5 linked regions of the Homo sapiens genome follow. The protein of the gene in region 1 interacts with the protein of each later gene in a pairwise test. Each region holds a gene or a part of one and is shown in the gene's direction. Other genes may lie near its edges. The genes, in order: YES1, TRIM5, SH3GLB2, SKAP2 and CCDC33.

The links.
Region 2: the proteins of YES1 (region 1) and TRIM5 interact in binary tests that used the Homo sapiens proteins (3 or more experiments, as listed by UniProt).
Region 3: the proteins of YES1 (region 1) and SH3GLB2 interact in binary tests that used the Homo sapiens proteins (3 or more experiments, as listed by UniProt).
Region 4: the proteins of YES1 (region 1) and SKAP2 interact in a protein complementation assay, tested with the Homo sapiens proteins (one study listed by BioGRID).
Region 5: the proteins of YES1 (region 1) and CCDC33 interact in a two-hybrid assay, tested with the Homo sapiens proteins (one large-scale study listed by BioGRID).

The regions. Positions count from the first base shown.
Region 1 is NC_000018.10:802,236-805,754, reverse strand, and holds part of YES1 (tyrosine-protein kinase Yes), read left to right. Parts: intron 1-3,519. UniProt on the Homo sapiens protein: Non-receptor protein tyrosine kinase that is involved in the regulation of cell growth and survival, apoptosis, cell-cell adhesion, cytoskeleton remodeling, and differentiation.
Region 2 is NC_000011.10:5,678,572-5,682,090, reverse strand, and holds part of TRIM5 (tripartite motif-containing protein 5), read left to right. Parts: intron 1-1,852; 5' UTR 1,853-1,913; coding exon 1,914-2,330; intron 2,331-2,921; coding exon 2,922-3,017; intron 3,018-3,519.
Region 3 is NC_000009.12:129,014,832-129,018,350, reverse strand, and holds part of SH3GLB2 (endophilin-B2), read left to right. Parts: intron 1-2,491; exon of another isoform or gene 2,492-2,611; intron 2,612-3,446; coding exon 3,447-3,519.
Region 4 is NC_000007.14:26,739,086-26,742,604, reverse strand, and holds part of SKAP2 (src kinase-associated phosphoprotein 2), read left to right. Parts: intron 1-233; exon of another isoform or gene 234-263; intron 264-2,640; coding exon 2,641-2,718; intron 2,719-3,519. UniProt on the Homo sapiens protein: May be involved in B-cell and macrophage adhesion processes. In B-cells, may act by coupling the B-cell receptor (BCR) to integrin activation. May play a role in src signaling pathway.
Region 5 is NC_000015.10:74,274,318-74,277,836, forward strand, and holds part of CCDC33 (coiled-coil domain-containing protein 33), read left to right. Parts: intron 1-3,519.

The DNA.
Region 1 (3,519 bases):
CTGATGTGATTAATATTTTACAGATAAGGATACTTTAAAAATAATAGCAGCCAGACATTTGGAAGGAGCAGAGAAGGCAATATGGTGTTATAAGGAAAGGACTGGAAGGTAGAGCACTAACACTATCTAGATTTTAGTTTCATTTCTGACAGTGAAGAGCTGTTTAGCCTTGGTCGATTCAGTAAACTCCCTAGGCGTTAGTTTTGCAATTTGAAACAAAAGGTAGTTGGGCCTCATGGTTTCTAATAGTTTCTCAGCTTTATATATAAATGTGTGCTCTGCCGCAGTTGAAGTTGTTACAATATAGTCATGCTCTGCCTAAGGAAGTTTCAATGATGGTGATCCTGTAAGATTATAGTAGAGCTGCCCTATATAGGTGTACCATTTTTTATTTTTTTATACTGTGTAATTACTGTATCTCTTCTACATTTAGTTATGTTTAAATACACAAATACTGTTACAGTTGCCTGCAGTATTCTGTACAGTTGTGTGCTGTACAGGTTTGTAGCCTGAGAGAAATAGGCCATACTATATGGCCCAAGGTTGTAGTCAGCTATACCACGTAGGTTTGTGTAAGTACACTCTAGAGTGTTCACATAATGTCAGAATTGCCTAATGAGGCATTTCTCAGAATATATGTTAAGTGATGCATGACCGTATTGATAAAATTTTAAGGAAATGTTTGAGTCTAAAATTTGGAATCACATTAGATATAAGTAAAGATTATAAAAAACTGACCCATGGACTTGACACGGAACTTTCTCAAGCAAATTGCAGTTCTACTAATTAAGCAAACATTTATACTACTATGCTAGGTTTTTGGTTTGTGTTTTTTTTTTTTGAGTCAGAGTCTCACTCTGTCGCCCAGGCTGGAGTGCAGTGGCTTGATCTCAGCTCACTACAACCTCAGCCTCCTGGGTTCAAGTGATTCTCCTGCCTCAGCCTCCCAAGTAGCTGGGATTACAGGCGTGTGCCACCACACCCGGCTAATTTTTGTGTTTTTAGTAGAGAATGGGATTTCTCCATGTTGGTCAGGCTGGTCTCCAACTCCCTATCTCAGGTGATCCGCCCGCCTTGGCCTCCCAAAGTGCCAGGCTTACAGGTGTGAGCCACCTCAGCTGGCCTTTTTTTTTTTTTTTTTTTTTGAGACTCAGTCTCACTCTATTGCCCAGGCTGGAGTGCAGTGGTGCAATCTCGGCTCACTGCAACCTCTGCCTCCCGGGTTCAAGCAATTCTCCCTGCCTCAGCCTCCTCAGTAGCTGGGATTACAGGTGTGTGCCACCACACCCAGCTAATTTTCTTATTTTTAGTAGAGATGGGGGTTTCACCATGTTGGCCAGGCTGGTCTCGAACTCCTGACCTCAGGTGATCTGCCTGCCTTGGCCTCCCAAAGTATTGGGATTACAGGCGTGAGCCACTGTGCCTAGCCCAGATTTTTTCGTAATAAAATTAGAAAAATGACTTAATTATTCTGTTGAAGTGGATAGTTATGATGTCAGTTAACAAGTAATCGTGGCTATTTGAATAAAAACTTTGCAACATTATATGAGAAAAATAGCCACTATCATCAAAATTTACATTTAATTTTTTTAATTGACAAAGGTATGGACAACTTGTTCTGGATATTTGTCTTTATACACATACAGTTAATATTTAGAACAAGACAAGCATGGCATTGGAAAATGGTTAGCCTTTTAAGGTTTGTAAAATAGATTTTCTAAAACAAAGAAACTAAAATTACAGTGTTCTGAAAGTTTGTAAGTTGATGTTTTGAAAATTAGAATCTGTTTTTCCAGGAAGTCTTTTCTGTAACATAAGCCTTTTGGCCTGATTTCTAGGCAGCCCGTTGGAGTCTTATAAAAGCCTCACAAATAGGTAAAATAATACTTTGGTGGTAAAATATTTTCTGACTGATTATCAGTTTTTGCCTGGTTTTTGTTAACTGCTGAGCTCTTTGAACAAATAAAATATTTGGCCTACAAGTGCTCTGATTATGAGGTGGGTGAACCTGTAGCCTTGCCAGTCACCCTCCTTTCCCACCTTACCAGCTCCTCACTATTTAAAAATCACTGTTTTGAGTTCCCTGTTAGGAGACTCAGATTCTCCCAATAAGGCATTGCTATTAAGCTTAATTTAAGTACAGAAACTTCCCTAGGTTTCCCCACCTGCTTGCTAGTGGCAGTGAAACCTGCCTCATACTCTAACCCTATAGGACAGTATGAGGTATAGAAAAGCTTCAAAAGATTGGGGGTAATAAACAAAAATAGTAGAAAAGGGTTTGGGAAAATGAGGAGTGTTACAATATGGAGTTTGTAACTTCTTTACCTTCTCTGTGCTTTTTTTATTTCCCACCCATTCACCTCACTTTGGCATTGGGTAGGGAAAGAAGAAAGCCTGTCCTATGATAGGTGCTATGCCATACTTTTATATGCATTATCACATTTGACTTGAATCTTTGAAATGTGTTTCCAAAATACACAGAAAAATTAGGAATGAGATGGGTATTTATTTTTTGTTTTTGAGACGGAGTCTCACTCTGACACCCAGGCTGGAATGAAGTGGCAAAACCTTGGCTCACTGCAACTTCTGCCTCCCAGGTTCAAGTGATCCTCCCACCTTGGTCTCTGAGTAGCTGCTGGGACCACAGTTGTGAGCCACCATGCCCAGCTAATTTTTTTTTTAATTTTTAAAATTCAAAATTTCTCACCATGTTGCTCAGACTGATCTTAAACCCCCTAGGCTCAAGGGATCCTCCCGCCTCGGCCTCCCAAAGTGCTGGGAAAACAGGTGTGAGCCACCATGCCCAGCCTGTTTTTTATTTTTATTTTTTTTTAGAATAGAGACAGGGTTTCACCTTGTTGCCCAGGCTGTCTCGAACTCCTGGGCTCAAGCGATCCACTTGCCTCAACCTCCCGAAGTGCTAGGATTATAGGTGTGAGCCACTGTGCTGGGCCCCTTGAGGTAGGTATTTATTACAGATAAAGAAACTGAGAATCAGAAAGTATATATAATTTGCTAAGGTCACACAACCGGCAGAACTGGGATTTAAACCTAGGGCTGACTACAAGCCTGTTCCATATGCCATAACTTTCTTAGGAATGAGGAGCAATGATGGAAAGGGAGATTTCTTGTCTTTTTTCTTCTTCATTAAATAGTACATTTGAATTGCTGGCAGAGAATGTTCAATTAATACTTTTTTTTTTTTTTTTTGAGATGGAGTTTCACTCTTGTTGCCCAGGCTGGGGTGCAATAGTGTGGTCTCCGCTCACTGCAACCTCTGCCTCCCAGGTTCAAGCGATTCTTCTGCCTCAGCCTCCTGAGTAGCTGGGATTACAAGCGTGCACCACCTTGCCTGGCTAATTTTTTGTATTTTTAGTCAGGCTGGTCTGGAACTCCCGACCTCAGGTGATCCACCTGCCTTGGCCTCCCAGAGTGCTGGGATTACAGGCATGAGCCACCACGCCTGGCAATACTTTCTAATTATTTTATTTTCTTTCTTTTTTAAGAGAGATGGTCTTG
Region 2 (3,519 bases), on another chromosome or scaffold:
GCACGGTGGCTCACGCCTGTAATCCCAGCACTTTAGGAGGCCGAGGCAGGTGGATCACAAGGTCAGGAGTTGGAGACCAGACTGGCCAATATGGTGAAACCCCATCTGTACCAAAAATACAAAAATTAGCCGGGTGTGGTGGTGCGTGCCTGTGGTCCCAGCTGCTCGGGAGGCTGGGGCAGAGGAGTCACTGGAACCTGGGAGGCAGAGGTTGTGGTGAGCCGAGATTGTGCCATTGCACTCCAGCCTGGGCGACAGAGCAAGACTCCGTCTCAAAAAAGAAAAAAAAATATTAAAAGCTGATAGAGCCAGTGCCCTTATACAAAGGCTGGAATGTAACAGAAGCCCACTGAGAGTTTTGCCCAGGCCTTTCCTGGGCCTTGAAGCATGACAAGATAACGAAGGAATCGATTAGGACCTGTTTAGGATTAAACAAGTTTTATGGGGGTCTGAAGGAACTCCCAGGCCTCCACAAACAAGTTTATTGAGGGTCTGAAGGAACTCCGCAAACCTTAATGATTTAGCAGGAGAGACAAGATAAGGGTAATCACCCCAGCACCCGGACCCATCTAGATTAGGTAAATTTACTGAGGCACCAGAGGAAGGTCTTAAAACTCAGACCTTAGTTATAGATTTGAAGAAGTTAATCACTTATGTTTTTAGATGAATAATGCACACCTATACGTAGACGTATAGCTTAGAAGGTATATAAGCTCTGGAAAACTTTGTAATTTTGAGTTGGTCTGGAGATATTTTCTAGGCCTTCTCCCTGTACGCAGAAATAAAAATTCGCTTCTTTCCCAGTAAATCTGCATCTCGTTATTGGGCCGCAAGAAGCAGCAGCCGACCCTCCGTTTGTTCCGGGAACAGAATCATCTCATCTAATATTTTGAGACTTCTCTCTCAAGACTGATATCCACTGCCTCTGTGCTTCTAGTTTTCAAGTATCCAACATGTGTGGTCCACTGAGTATTTCTCTATCATCACCCTCTACACCATGTCTACACCTTTAGGCTCCAATAAATGTCCTTGGCAAACTTTCAGGATGAGACTCCTCAGAACCTCCCAGCTGTTGTGGATTCCTCTACTTCCACACCCCAATTGCTCTGGGTATTAATTGGATATATGCTGTTATCTCCATTTGTCATTGATTAACCAAAAGAGTAGCAAAGAGGCCAGTGAAAGAGGACCCTGAATACGAGGTCATCTCAGGTCACCATACTGAAGATAAATAATTTTTGTAAATCACTTATTATGTCTATTTATACATTTGATGAAACAGTCATTCACTCTGCTGATAATAAGAGCAATCATTGCAAACGTACAGTGCATGGTGAGATTTGTTACACTGCACATAAGGTAGTCAGAGCAGGTATTTTTGATAATATAACATGTAAGGAGAGAATTTAATAAAATCGTACTAACATCAGAGAAACATTTCATGCTGAGAGAAGAGCAAATGTGAAAGCCCTGAGGCATAAGCTGTTTGGTGATTTTAATACTGAGGATGTGTTTTGGCGTGGGAAAGAAAAGCCAGGAGAGATGATGGGTCACACAAAGATCTTGGTAGAAAAGACCTCAGTCTGTTTTCTATTCATTGAAAGTAAAGAAAAATGATAACCAATGCACAGATAAGAACAGAATTTGTCATATGACATGAACTGGCAGTAAAGTATTTAAGGTGATTATGAAAAGCCCTTATTACCAGGTAACCAAACACCTTTTCTTATTTCTCCCCTTTTTTTGTCCTTAATTATTTTCATCTTGCCCATTTTCTAATTGTGCACAATCAATATCCTTTCTATTTCTACCTTTCTTACTTGGTCCCATTTTAACCTTCCCAATCATGCAGGGATCTGTGAACAAGAGGAACCTCAGCAGCCAGGACAGGCAGGAGCAGTGGAATAGCTACTATGGCTTCTGGAATCCTGGTTAATGTAAAGGAGGAGGTGACCTGCCCCATCTGCCTGGAACTCCTGACACAACCCCTGAGCCTGGACTGCGGCCACAGCTTCTGCCAAGCATGCCTCACTGCAAACCACAAGAAGTCCATGCTAGACAAAGGAGAGAGTAGCTGCCCTGTGTGCCGGATCAGTTACCAGCCTGAGAACATACGGCCTAATCGGCATGTAGCCAACATAGTGGAGAAGCTCAGGGAGGTCAAGTTGAGCCCAGAGGGGCAGAAAGTTGATCATTGTGCACGCCATGGAGAGAAACTTCTACTCTTCTGTCAGGAGGACGGGAAGGTCATTTGCTGGCTTTGTGAGCGGTCTCAGGAGCACCGTGGTCACCACACGTTCCTCACAGAGGAGGTTGCCCGGGAGTACCAAGTAAGAGACTGGGATGGAAGGAAGAGAGGGCAGAAAATGGGACCAGATGGAAAATTTTCACTTTGCCTTTGACATTAACTGCCTTGTCATGATAGACCTGAGACCCGGGATTATTTTTTTCATGCTATGCTTAACTTCTGAGGCTTTAAGGATGGTTTTTTGCATTTCACCCAATTACAGGAGAATAATCCTAGAGTATATATTCCTGGCCGGGAGTAAATATTTTGTACCTTGGGTTAGATGGGTAGAGATTTGGTGTCCAAGAAAAGCTCTGATTACCCCTTTCAGCAGGAGAGTAACAGGAGTGGGTTGAGATGTAAGTTTTTTCCTTGCTGCAGGATTAGTTTTTTCTTCTAGGACAAAAAGAATCAGTCTACTCATGGTGAGGAGATGGGGAGGTCTATTACCTGAGATGTAGGGAGCACATTCACCAATGTAAGTTTTCTTCCAAGTCATGGATTCTCATTGCCATTCTCACAGTTTCTGCAAATTTGTTTCTTCTGAGATCAACCTGATTTATTTCATGTTTATACTCTATCTAGGTGCTGGAAAACCTCATAGCTTGACTATGGTGTGATTCCTTTCTCACAGGTGAAGCTCCAGGCAGCTCTGGAGATGCTGAGGCAGAAGCAGCAGGAAGCTGAAGAGTTAGAAGCTGACATCAGAGAAGAGAAAGCTTCCTGGAAGGCAAGAGGATGTGGTTCCCGAAGGAGTTAGCTAGAAATCTGGGCAGGACCAGGGGAAGGAGCTTTCTTCCTCTTTATTCCCTGACATTTGATAAGTCCAGAAGTCATTTGATTAGTCCTCTTCATCCTTTCCCTGATGGGGTGTGGTGGCTGAGGAGTGAATATGTCACAGTGAACACAGTAGGGAGCTCTTTACATGAAGGATCTCTCTGGTGAGGATGGCTAGTGAATCCTGCATTCTATTTTTGTGCTACTTTTTGAGTCCGTGACTCTACTTGGGGAAGACATTTGGCAATGGCTCATGATTCTGTCCTCAGTGTTCAACTTTTGGCAGGGAGTTTGAGCTTGGGCTGAGAAGTAATACAGGCAGGCATGAGTGTCCTGCATAGCTGTGTGAAAGGTAAGCTACATCCAGGTAACCCATTTTGATGCAGGATGAACCTCAATATACCCATTCAAGGTCATTGTTTTAAAATGTCATGAAGGAAAAGAAATAGGAAAAG
Region 3 (3,519 bases), on another chromosome or scaffold:
CCGCCTTGGCCTCCCAAAGTGCTGGGATTACAGGCGTGAGCCACTGCGCCCAGCCAATTTAATTTAACTTTTTAAGAAGTTGCCAAACTGTTTTCCAAAGTAGCTGTATGATTTTTTTATTCCTGTCAGTAGTGTGTTGTTTCATTTTCAGATATTTGTGGATTTTCTGGGTTTTCTTCTATTGTTGCTTTTAACTTAATTCCACTGCGATCAGAGAATGTATGAACATGTCGTGCTATGTTAGTATTATTATTATTTTGAGATGGAGTCTCGCTCTGTCGCCCAGGCTGGAGTGCAATGGTGCCATCTGGGCTCACTGCAAGCTCCACTTCCCAGGTTCAAGGGATCCTCCACCTCAGCCTCTCAGCCTTCTGAGTAGCTGAGATTACAGGCACGCACCATCACGCACCTATAATCACACCCAGCTAATTTTTTTTTTTTTTTTTTTTGTTTGAGACGGAATCTCGCTCTGTCGCCCAGGCTGGAGTGCAGTGGCACGATCTCGGCTCACTGCAACCTCCGCCTCTCGTGTTCATGCCATTCTCCTGCCTCAGCCTCCCAAGTAGCTGGGACTACAGGCACCTGCCACCATGCCAGGCTAATTTTTTTTTTTTTCAGTGGAGACGGGATTTCACCGTGTTAGCCAGGATAGTCGATCTCCTGACCTCGTGATCCACCCACCTTGGCCTCCCAGAGTGCTGGGATTACAGGTGTGAGCCATCACACCCGGCGTATTTTTTGTATTTTTAATAGAGATGGGGGTCTCACCATGTTGGCCAGGCTGGTCTCAAACTCCTGATCTCAAGTGATCCGCCTGCCTTAGCCTCCCAAAGTGCTGGGATTACAGGCATGAGCCAGCACACCCAGCCTCATATTTTTATTGTTTTAATCCTTTTAAATTTATTGAGACTTGTTTCATGACCTAGTATATGGTCTATCTGGGGAATGTCCTAGGTTCACTTGAGAAGATGTGATATTATGCTGTTGAGGGTGCAGTGCTGTATAGGTGTCAGCGAGGCCACATCGGTTAATAGTGTTCAAGGCTTGTATGTCCTTGCTGATTTTGTCTTGTCCTATTCATTATCAAGAGTAGACTATTGAGGCTGGGCATGGTGGCTCACACCTGTAATCCCGCCACTTTGGGAGGTCAAAGTGGTTGGATCACCTGAGGTCAGGAGTTCAAGACCAGCCTGGCCAACATGGTGAAATCCTGTCTCTACTAAAAATACAAAAAAATTAGCTGGGCATGCTGGTGCGCGCCTATAGTCCCAGCTACTTGGGAGGCTGAGGCAGGAGAATTGCTGGAACCCGGGAGGCGTAGGTTGCAGCGAGCCAAGAGCGCGCCACTGCACTCCAGCCTGGGAGACAGAGTGAGACCAAAAAAAAAAAAAAAAAAAAAGAGCAGAGTATTCAAGTTTCCAACTATTACTGTTGAATTATCTTATTTCTCTCTTTGTCAGTGTTTGCCTTATGTATTTTGGAACTGTCTTAGGTCTGTATGTTTATATTTGTGCATCTTCCTGATGAATTGACTCTTTCATTATAAAATACTATTCTTTGTCTCTAGTACTATTTTGTGTTAAAGTCTATTTTGTCTGGTAGTAGTATAGCCACGTTAACTCTCTCGTGGTTACTGCATACATGGTGTACTTTTTTCAGCCCATTCATGTCTTTAAATTTAAAGTGTATCTTTGGATTTTTTTTTTTTTCTGTCACCCAGGCGGGAGTGCAGTGGTGCGATCTTGGTTCACTGCGACCTCCACCTCCCGGTTTCAAGCGATTATCCTACCTCAGCCTCCTGAGTAGCTGGGATTACAGGTGCTTGCCACCACGCCTGGCTAATTTTTGTATTTTTAGTAGAGACAGGTTTCACCAAGTTGGTTAGGCTGGTCTTGAACTCCTGACCTCATGATCCGCCTGCCTCAGCCTTCCAAAGTGCTGGGATTACAGGTGTGAGCCACCGCACCCGGCCGTATCTTTTTTTTTTTTTTTTTTTTTTTTTTTTTTTAAAGACAGTCTTGCTCTTGTTGCCCAGGCTGGAGTACAGTGGTGTGACGTTGGCTCACTGCAACCTCTGCCTCCTGGGTTCAAGCAATTCTCCTGCCTCAGTCTCCCAAGTAGCTGGAATTACAGATGCACACCACCACACCCAGCTAATTTTTGTATTTTTAGTAGAGACGAGGTTTTGCCATGTTGTCCAGGTTGGTCTCGAACTCCTGACCTCAAGTGACCCACCCACTTTAGCCTCCCAAAGTGCTAGAATTACAGGCGTGAGCCACTGCGCCCGGCCTTGCCTTCACTTTTGAAGGATTGTTTTGCTATATATAGAATTCCTGGATGAACAATTTTTTCTTTACTTTGAATATATTATCTTACTGCTGTCTGGCTTCTATTGTTTCTAATGAGAAGACAATTCATCTTATTTTAGCTCTCTTGTATGTGATGAATCAAACCATGTTTTTTCTTTTCTTTTCTTTTTTTTAAAGACAGGATCTTGCTGTGTCACCCAGACTGGAGTGCAGTGGTGCAATCATAGCTTACTACTATAGCCTCAAACTCCTGGGTTCAAATGATCCTTCCGCCTGGGCCTCCCAGAGTATTGGGATTACAGGTGTGAGCCAGCGCGCCCAGCCTCTTATTGTTTCTTCACATATTTTTTCTGCCTTATTTTCTCCTCCTCTTCTGGGACTCTTGTTAGTCATATGTTGGTTCACTTGACAGTGCCCCGTAGGTGCTGAGGCGCTGCTCATTTTTCTTATGATTTTCTATTTATTTTTTATAAAGACAAGGTTTTGCCATGTTGCCCGGGCTGGTCTTGAACAGCTGGGTTCAAGCAGTCTGCCCACCTTGGTTTTCCAAAGTGCTGAGATTACAGGTGTGAGCCACAGCATCCAGCCCAGTAGTTTTTCTTGATTAAATGCTTTTCAATTTGTTTTTTGCCTTGGTCAATTTGCAGAGTCCAGAAATGGATGTTTTTGACAATTGTGTCCAGTTTTCTTTCAATTTGTTTTATTTTCAAAGAGATAAGGTCTCCCTATGTTGCCCAGGGTGGTCTGGAACTGCCGAGCTCAAGTGATCCTCCCGTCTCGGCCTCCCAGAGTGCTAGGATTATAGGTGTGAGCCACCGCACCTGGCGTGGTGTCCAGTTTTATTGTTACTTTTTTTGGGAGGGGATTTGTTGAGCTCCTTTCTCTGACATTCTGGAAGTCTAACCCCGATCTTTATAATGGCTGCATTGTGTTCCATATTTTGGCTGTCCCATTGTTTATTTGTTAGTTCCCAGTTGATGGTGTAGTGTAGGTTGCTTCTGCTTTTTCCCAGGCAAAGCATTCTGCACTGAGCACCCCGGCCCTTGCTCTTCAGCAAGCTCTTCCTGAGCCCTCTCCTGTAGATCAGAGTAGCCTGAGCCTGACCTTCTTCCTCACGCTTCAACTCTGTTTTCTCAGGGAAGACACTGATCAAGGTGGCAGAAGCTGAAAAGCAACTGGGAGCCGCGGAGAGGGATTTTATCCACACGGC
Region 4 (3,519 bases), on another chromosome or scaffold:
TTTTATATTAGAAACATGAATTTAGAATTCAGAACAAGTATTGCTTATGACATCAAATTTTATTGTGATGTATCAGGTGGAAATTTAGTCAACACTTTTCTTAAAGCAAAAGACTCAGGCTATGTGTATATTGAACGCTAGTAAATTCTAATTTCCCTTCTCCTTTTCCTTTTCCCCCACTTCCTCTCCCCTCTCCCTTCTTCCCATCTCTCTCTGTCTCCTTTTTGACCAGTAACATTTTAGAGTTGAAAGCTATGCTAAAGGTACCCATTTCTTTTCAGAATAATTTAACTTTTCTTAAGATTTTGTGAGCATCCATTCCTTATGTAAAGAGCATTTATTATGCCCAATGGAAGTGAGAGGGTTGTGGGACTACCCCTTAATGAGACCAGATCATTCCACAATTATCCACTTTAGATTAGTGGTTCACCAGGACTTGTTTACAGAGATAAGATTTCTGTTTGTAATTTTTGTTTTATGTACAAAATCCTATAATAAATAATTTATACCTTTATATGTACCAAGTTTATTTTGAAAAAAACTGGATACATTTATTGAACAGCTATTAAAATATGTACACTGACTTTCCCTAAAATTTCATATACATTTCAAAATCAGGGCTCTATTTTAAATATGTTTTAATGATACTGTGTGGTGTTTACTGGGTGAAGTTGATCCACCAAGGAGCTGAAATTAGTGCTCTAATTTTAAGCTTTATTTCTTAAGAAAAAATATCCATGACTTTATCACTACTGTGATCCCCATGGTATTAAAAAAAAAAACTGGTAAAATTAGGTGATGAGTTTGTAAATAATAAACTTCCTATCAAACCCATTCTTTTTTTTAATTTTTAATTTTTGTGGGTACACAATAGGCAAATTTATGGGCATATTGTATGTTTTGATACAGGCATACAATGCATGATAATCACATCAGGATAAATGAGGTATCCATCACCTCAACCATTTATTCTTTCTCTGTTACAAAGAATCCAATTATATTTGTTTAGTTATTTCATTTTATTAATTTATTTATTTATTTATTTATTTATTTATTTATTTATTTAGAGACAGGGTCTCACTCTATTACCCAGGCTGGAGCGCAGTGGCACAATCATGGCTCACTGCAGCCTTGACCTCTTGGGGGATCCTCCCACCTCAGACCCCCTTCCCCCCACCTCTACCCTCCTCCTCCACTGGCTGGGACTGCAGGCGCGTATACCACTACACCCAGTTATTTTTAAATTTTTCGTAGAGATGGGGGTCTCACTGTGTTACCCAAGCTGGTGTCAAACTCCTGGGCTCAAGCGACCCTCCTTCCTTAGCCTCCCAAAGTGCTGGGATTGTAGGCATGAGCCATTGCACCCGGCCACTTAGTTATTTTTAAATGTACAATAAATTATTGTTGACTATAGTCACTCTGTTGTGCTATCAAATACTAGATCTTATTCATTCTAATTACATGTTTGTACTCAAACACATTTTCTATCCTAAGTTGTACTGAAACTATTTCCACTGGATGTATTCCATACAAACTTTCTTTTGATTGGTTGTTTTCACTTGCTAGAGTTCTAGTAAAATGCTGAGGATAACTATTATATTTCTTTTCTTTTCTGTTTTCGTTTTTTTCTCTTTTTTTTCCCAGGCTGGATTGCAATGGCGTGATCTTGGCTCACTGCAACCTCTGCCTCCTGGGTTCGAGTGATTCTCCTGCGTCAGCTCCCAAGTAGCTGGGATTACAGGCACCCGCCACCATGCCTGGCTAATTTCTTTTGTAGTTTTAGTAGAGACCAGGTTTCACTGTGTTGGCCAGGCTGGTCTCGAACTCCTGTCCTCAAGTGATCCACCCGCCTCGGCCTCCAAAAGTGCTGGGATTACAAGCGTGAGCCACTGCGCCCGGCAGATAACTATTATATTTCTAATGAAGTTTATAAAAATATTGAACACTTGTAAAATTGAGTAACCTATAATCCATGACCGTGAATATACAATTTCTAATCAACTTAACTTTTGCTTGATTTAAAAACTTTTTTTAGGGATCCAGTATTTGTTTATAATAGTTTTATCAGATCTGTCTAGTTTTAGACTCTTAAATGCCCTATAAAAACCTAAAGCATACTCACTCAGTGGAATGTCCATAACATTTCTCTGAATACAAACACAGAGAATATTTGCTGTGGGCTCAGAGAAACAAGTTTCAGCATTTGATTCGGAAAAGCATTTTATGTTTTACTTGGTAGGAATAGGGATTATGCAGGAAAGAGTCAATATGTATTGAAATTTTTAAAGAGTTAATTCAATATAAATATAACGAAGCTATGATTTATTTGAAATTCTTAACCTCTCTTTCAGGGATTTATTGCATTTATTTATAATAGTTTCTCAGTCCTGTATTTTGGGAGGCTATAATAACATATAGGAGTACAGAACTTTTTTTTTTTTTTTTTTTTTTTTACTTTTGAGACTTTTAGGAGGAATAGAGGGGATTAATCTAGGGAATGGATCTGAAACAAAGCTAATAGACTTAGATTTAAACAATTTCAGTAATTAAAAGCACACTGAATCTAATGAGATCTGGCACTTGTTTATTCTGAAATGGATTACCCACTGCTTTTTTTTTTCTCTCCCCAACTTCTCATAGGAGCCCAGTTTCCTCCAATTGCAGCACAAGACCTTCCTTTTGTTCTAAAGGCTGGCTACCTTGAAAAACGCAGAAAAGGTAAACTGAAGGTTCTAATGAAAAATGTAAAAATAATTTCATCCTTAGATAGAACATGTTTGTAGTATACATGTGGAGGCAGTATTCGTTTTAGGTGATTAAAGAGTTTAAAGATTGTAAGAAAATCTGGATGACATTATCCAAACCACAAAATATAGCTCTTAGCTTTAAATAATTTTTAATAAGAAAACATTAGGTTAGGTTTTTAGTTGTCAACCTTGGTTATTTGTAAATGATTCAGGAGCTGTTTCCTGCCTCTCAAAGGAAAGCTGCAGGCCATGACTGTATTCTCAAAGGTGGGATTTCTCACCAGTATCTCAATGGGCTGAGCAGCAGGTTCTCCTATGCCCAAACTGGCATGCACCATGGTTCAGATCAAGCCTGGAGTTTTGTCTGCCATTGTCTATTATTCATTTCAGTGTTCCTCTCCATTGGCTATGATAATTGGGAGTTGACCATATGGTCTCACTCTTTCAACACCAATATTTAATGGAAATGAAATATGGAGGTGGTTTTATAATATGAGAAATGAAAAGCAGACAGTCTTTTCATTACCATTCTGCTTATCTCTCTTGTAGTCCCTTTAGGCCTTTCTATTTATATTTCATTTTGCTTTTCTTAGCTTTCTTAGCTGAATTTTAAAACTGAAAGAGATAACAGAAATAATCTAGGTTAGCTCCTCCCCTTCTTTTTATAACAGATGAGAAAATGAGACCCAGATGGATCAATTATCTCAAGACTGTATAGTCAGATACCTTTTTGACTGTCCCTGTCAGAAAACTTTGTTAGCCATGCTGTTGA
Region 5 (3,519 bases), on another chromosome or scaffold:
GTCTCTTCTCATGATCTGCGCTTCACTGCCAGCTTGCCCTACACGATGGTCCCAACATTCCTAGGGGCCTTGGGGGACAGAGGGATTTTTGGAGGTCCCTCCTATTGTCTGCCCACCAGTGCTTATGTCTGGCATAGCAAAAATAGAACAAGACACCCCTTTGGAGCCCAGGCTTCATTTAAAGGCAAAGACATTTGAAGAAGGCTCAGACATGGGGTAGAGTGATGGTGGTGGGGAGGAGTGGGACAAAGGGGGACCCTGGGGACAGAGGCTTCAAACCCAAACCAATCCTTTGCCTGATTTCCCTAGAGTTACCTCACACATGGCCCTGCATTTGCCCAGAAAATTAAGAACCAATCAGCAGGCTGTCCCAAGGGGCAAGAGGCACTGCCTGCTTTAATGAGTGTGCCCCCTCCCACCCCCAGGCTTTCTCTGGCTGCCTTTGCTGCCTAACTAGTCTGGGTAGGAGAGGTGCCACTCACTACAGAGACTTGTTCCCAGTGCCTTTTGCATGTGTGGGACCCGGTCCAGCAATGGCAGGACACCTGTTGAACATCACCCAACCCCATGGCAGCTGGGCCAGGTTGGGAATTTGCTGGCAGCTGGCACAGAGGTGCCCAGGTGCAGCAGTGAGAGAACAGGAGCAGGCTGCTGTGGTAAGGAGGGGTGGGGATTGCCCGGGCAGAGCCATACCTGGAGGGGCACCAGTCAGCAGCGTGAGCTCAGTCTTCACACAGACCCCTGCCCTGTTCCCTTTGAGCGTCAGTCCCCTCATCTCTACACTTGAGGGGGTGGGATTGGACTTGGTAATTTTAGGGCCTGCCCTCTCTGACATCTTGGGGGGCTGTGATTTCTCACCAACTGTCACTGTGCAAAAGCACTGTTTGACCTGGGTTTGACCCCAGCTCTGTAACTTACTGGCTGCATGACCTTTGGTAAGCTGCTCCTTTCTCCAGACTCATTGATTCCAATCTGTTAGGAGAACTCAAAGGATAATCTTTGCAAAGTGTCCAGGCCCAGGGTCCAAGGTAAATGGGTTCCACTCTTAACAGAGCTGTACCTCCCCTAGTGCCAGTGTCCCCTCTGAGGCCAGCCTCACCACTGCCCTTTTCACATCTGGCTCCAAGTAACAGAAACCCCAACTTGGATCGGCTTAAATACTAAGGATATTTATTGTCACACACCACATCAACTCACGACATAGAATGCTGCCAGAATTGGTGGATGCTCAGGCTCAGAAGCATCCTCGAGGTCTCAGGATCTTTCCAACACCCCGAATTACCATCTTCAGCTGGCTAACGGCTCATGGGGGCACTTCATCCAAATAGAATGAAAGACCAGCAGATAAGAGGCAGCCTCTCTTTTTTTTTTTGCGACCAAGTCTCTGTCCCCCAGGCTGGAGTGCAGTGGCGCAATCCTGGCTCACACTGCAACCTCTGCCTCCTGGGTTCAAGCAATTCTCCTGCCTCAGCCTCCCGAGTATCTGGGATTACAGGCGAGCGCCACCATGCCCAGCTAATTTTGTATATTTAGTAGAGATAGGGTTCAACCATGTTAACCAGGCTGATCTTGAACTCCCGACCTCTGGCGATACGCCCACCTTGGCCTCCCAAAGTGCTGGAATTACAGGCCTGAGGCACCGCACCCAGCAGCACCCTCTCTTCTTGTAGGTGGTTTTAAAGAGCAACTGGAAACCAACCTTACCCAGCCATCCCTCAGCAGACCTCCTTCCTGTCTGATTAGCCAGGATTGGGTTACATGCACTTCCCTGAGCCAATCACTAAGGAGGGGTGTGGCTCTGCCTTGCTGGTATAAATGTGGAAGGTTATGGAGGCGGAGCCACCCGAACCCAAGGGCCATCTGCTGGTGATGAGGCAAGGAGGGGCATGGTGGTGGGCTAGGTGGCCCTCAGTGGAGCCTGGTGATGATGGCAAAGGCTGAACTGGTGAGTTAAGGGGTAGATGGCCTGTCGGACTTCACCTGGTCCAGCCTGCTGGAACCAACATAGGGTGGGCCGTGTAAGTTACTCCTACCCCGGCACCTTGGAAGGGGCCCATTGCCCAACAGGCTGCTCCTGTTGTTCTGGTCTCCTACAGAGCTGGAGTGGAGCTCCGGGAAGCCATGTGTGCCCACCACCATCCCCTCCTCTCTCAGCCCCACAGCTGGCCTGTCCCCAAGCTCTCCTGGGGCCCCTTCCATCCCCACAGACCCTGCCCTAGTGCTAGCCTCCCCTCAGGCCCCTGCCATCCATTCTCTGAGGAGCAGCCAGGGCATCCCCTGCCTAGCCCTTCCCCTGGGCCCCCTGTTACTATCACGACAAGGCAAATCCCACTCTCAGCCAGGTCCACAGGCCCTGTGCCCTCCAGCCTCCTGGCTTATGGCTCCAGCTCATACAGGCATTCTGCAGCCCCACTGGACAGCTTGCTGTTCTCCACACCCACACTGCCCCTTCCCACCTCCAGCCTCCACCTCTGCTGCACTCGCAGTCTGGAATGGCCTTCCTCTTCCTTACCTACTGCCCTTGTCCTTCAGGTCCTCCCTGAGGAATGGGGTCAGAAGTCATGGCTTTCTCCTCGCACACCCCAGCTCCCACAACCACAGCTTGCTTAGGACTCTACATGTTTGTGTGTGTGTGTCTGTCTGTCTGTCTGTCTGTCTGTCCCCTATCCTCCTGGATGATGGTGGGCTACAGGGTCGGGGGCAGAGTCTGGCTCTACAGCACCCCACAGGCATCTGGAATGGAGAAGCCCCCCAGAGTCAACATTTGCTGAGTTCAGTGAAGTTGAACTTACATCTTAATAGCAAAACATCCATTGTCTCCTTTAACCTTACAACAGGCTTTCAAAGTGAGGAGTTTGAGGCATATCCCCATGGGATGATGGGAAAAGTAGGTCCCAAAGAGGAGAAGGGACTTGAAGGCCACACAGCAAGGTTGAGGCAGACCCAGACCCAGAGCCAAGGGGTCCTAGATCCCTAGAGACCCCAGCCCAGCATCTGCTCCCAGCAGCTACTCCTCCAGATGGCGGCCACTATGCCTGGGCAGAGCAGGCAGAGGTGGATGTGGGTGGGCCCAGGGGAAATAAGGCGGTGGGCGTGGAGGGGCCATGGAATGAAGGCTCTGTCCCCAGGGGAAGCAGGTCTGCCTCCATGGCTGGGGGTTAATGGCTTTTCTGAAGATCACAGCTGAGGGTTAATGACATTCCATAATTCCACTACCGCTGTGGCCCTTCCATTAGCATCTGCAGGCGATGCCTGCCTCTCCCCGCCCCCATCCTGCACACACATCAGCCACAGTACCCTCACCAGGGCTCTGGCGTCAGACTGCAGGTCTTCTAACTTTGAGTTCCCACCACTCCTGCCTGCACATGCACAAGACAGGCTGACCCTCCCTCCCCAGTCCTAGGTCTGAAGTGATCTTTCCTAAGTGACTTGCCCTGGGAAACTACTCAGGGAAAGGGCTGTTCCTTATTGGGCCGGCAGCCACTCACCACCTCTGGCTTCATAGGCTCCATTTAGACA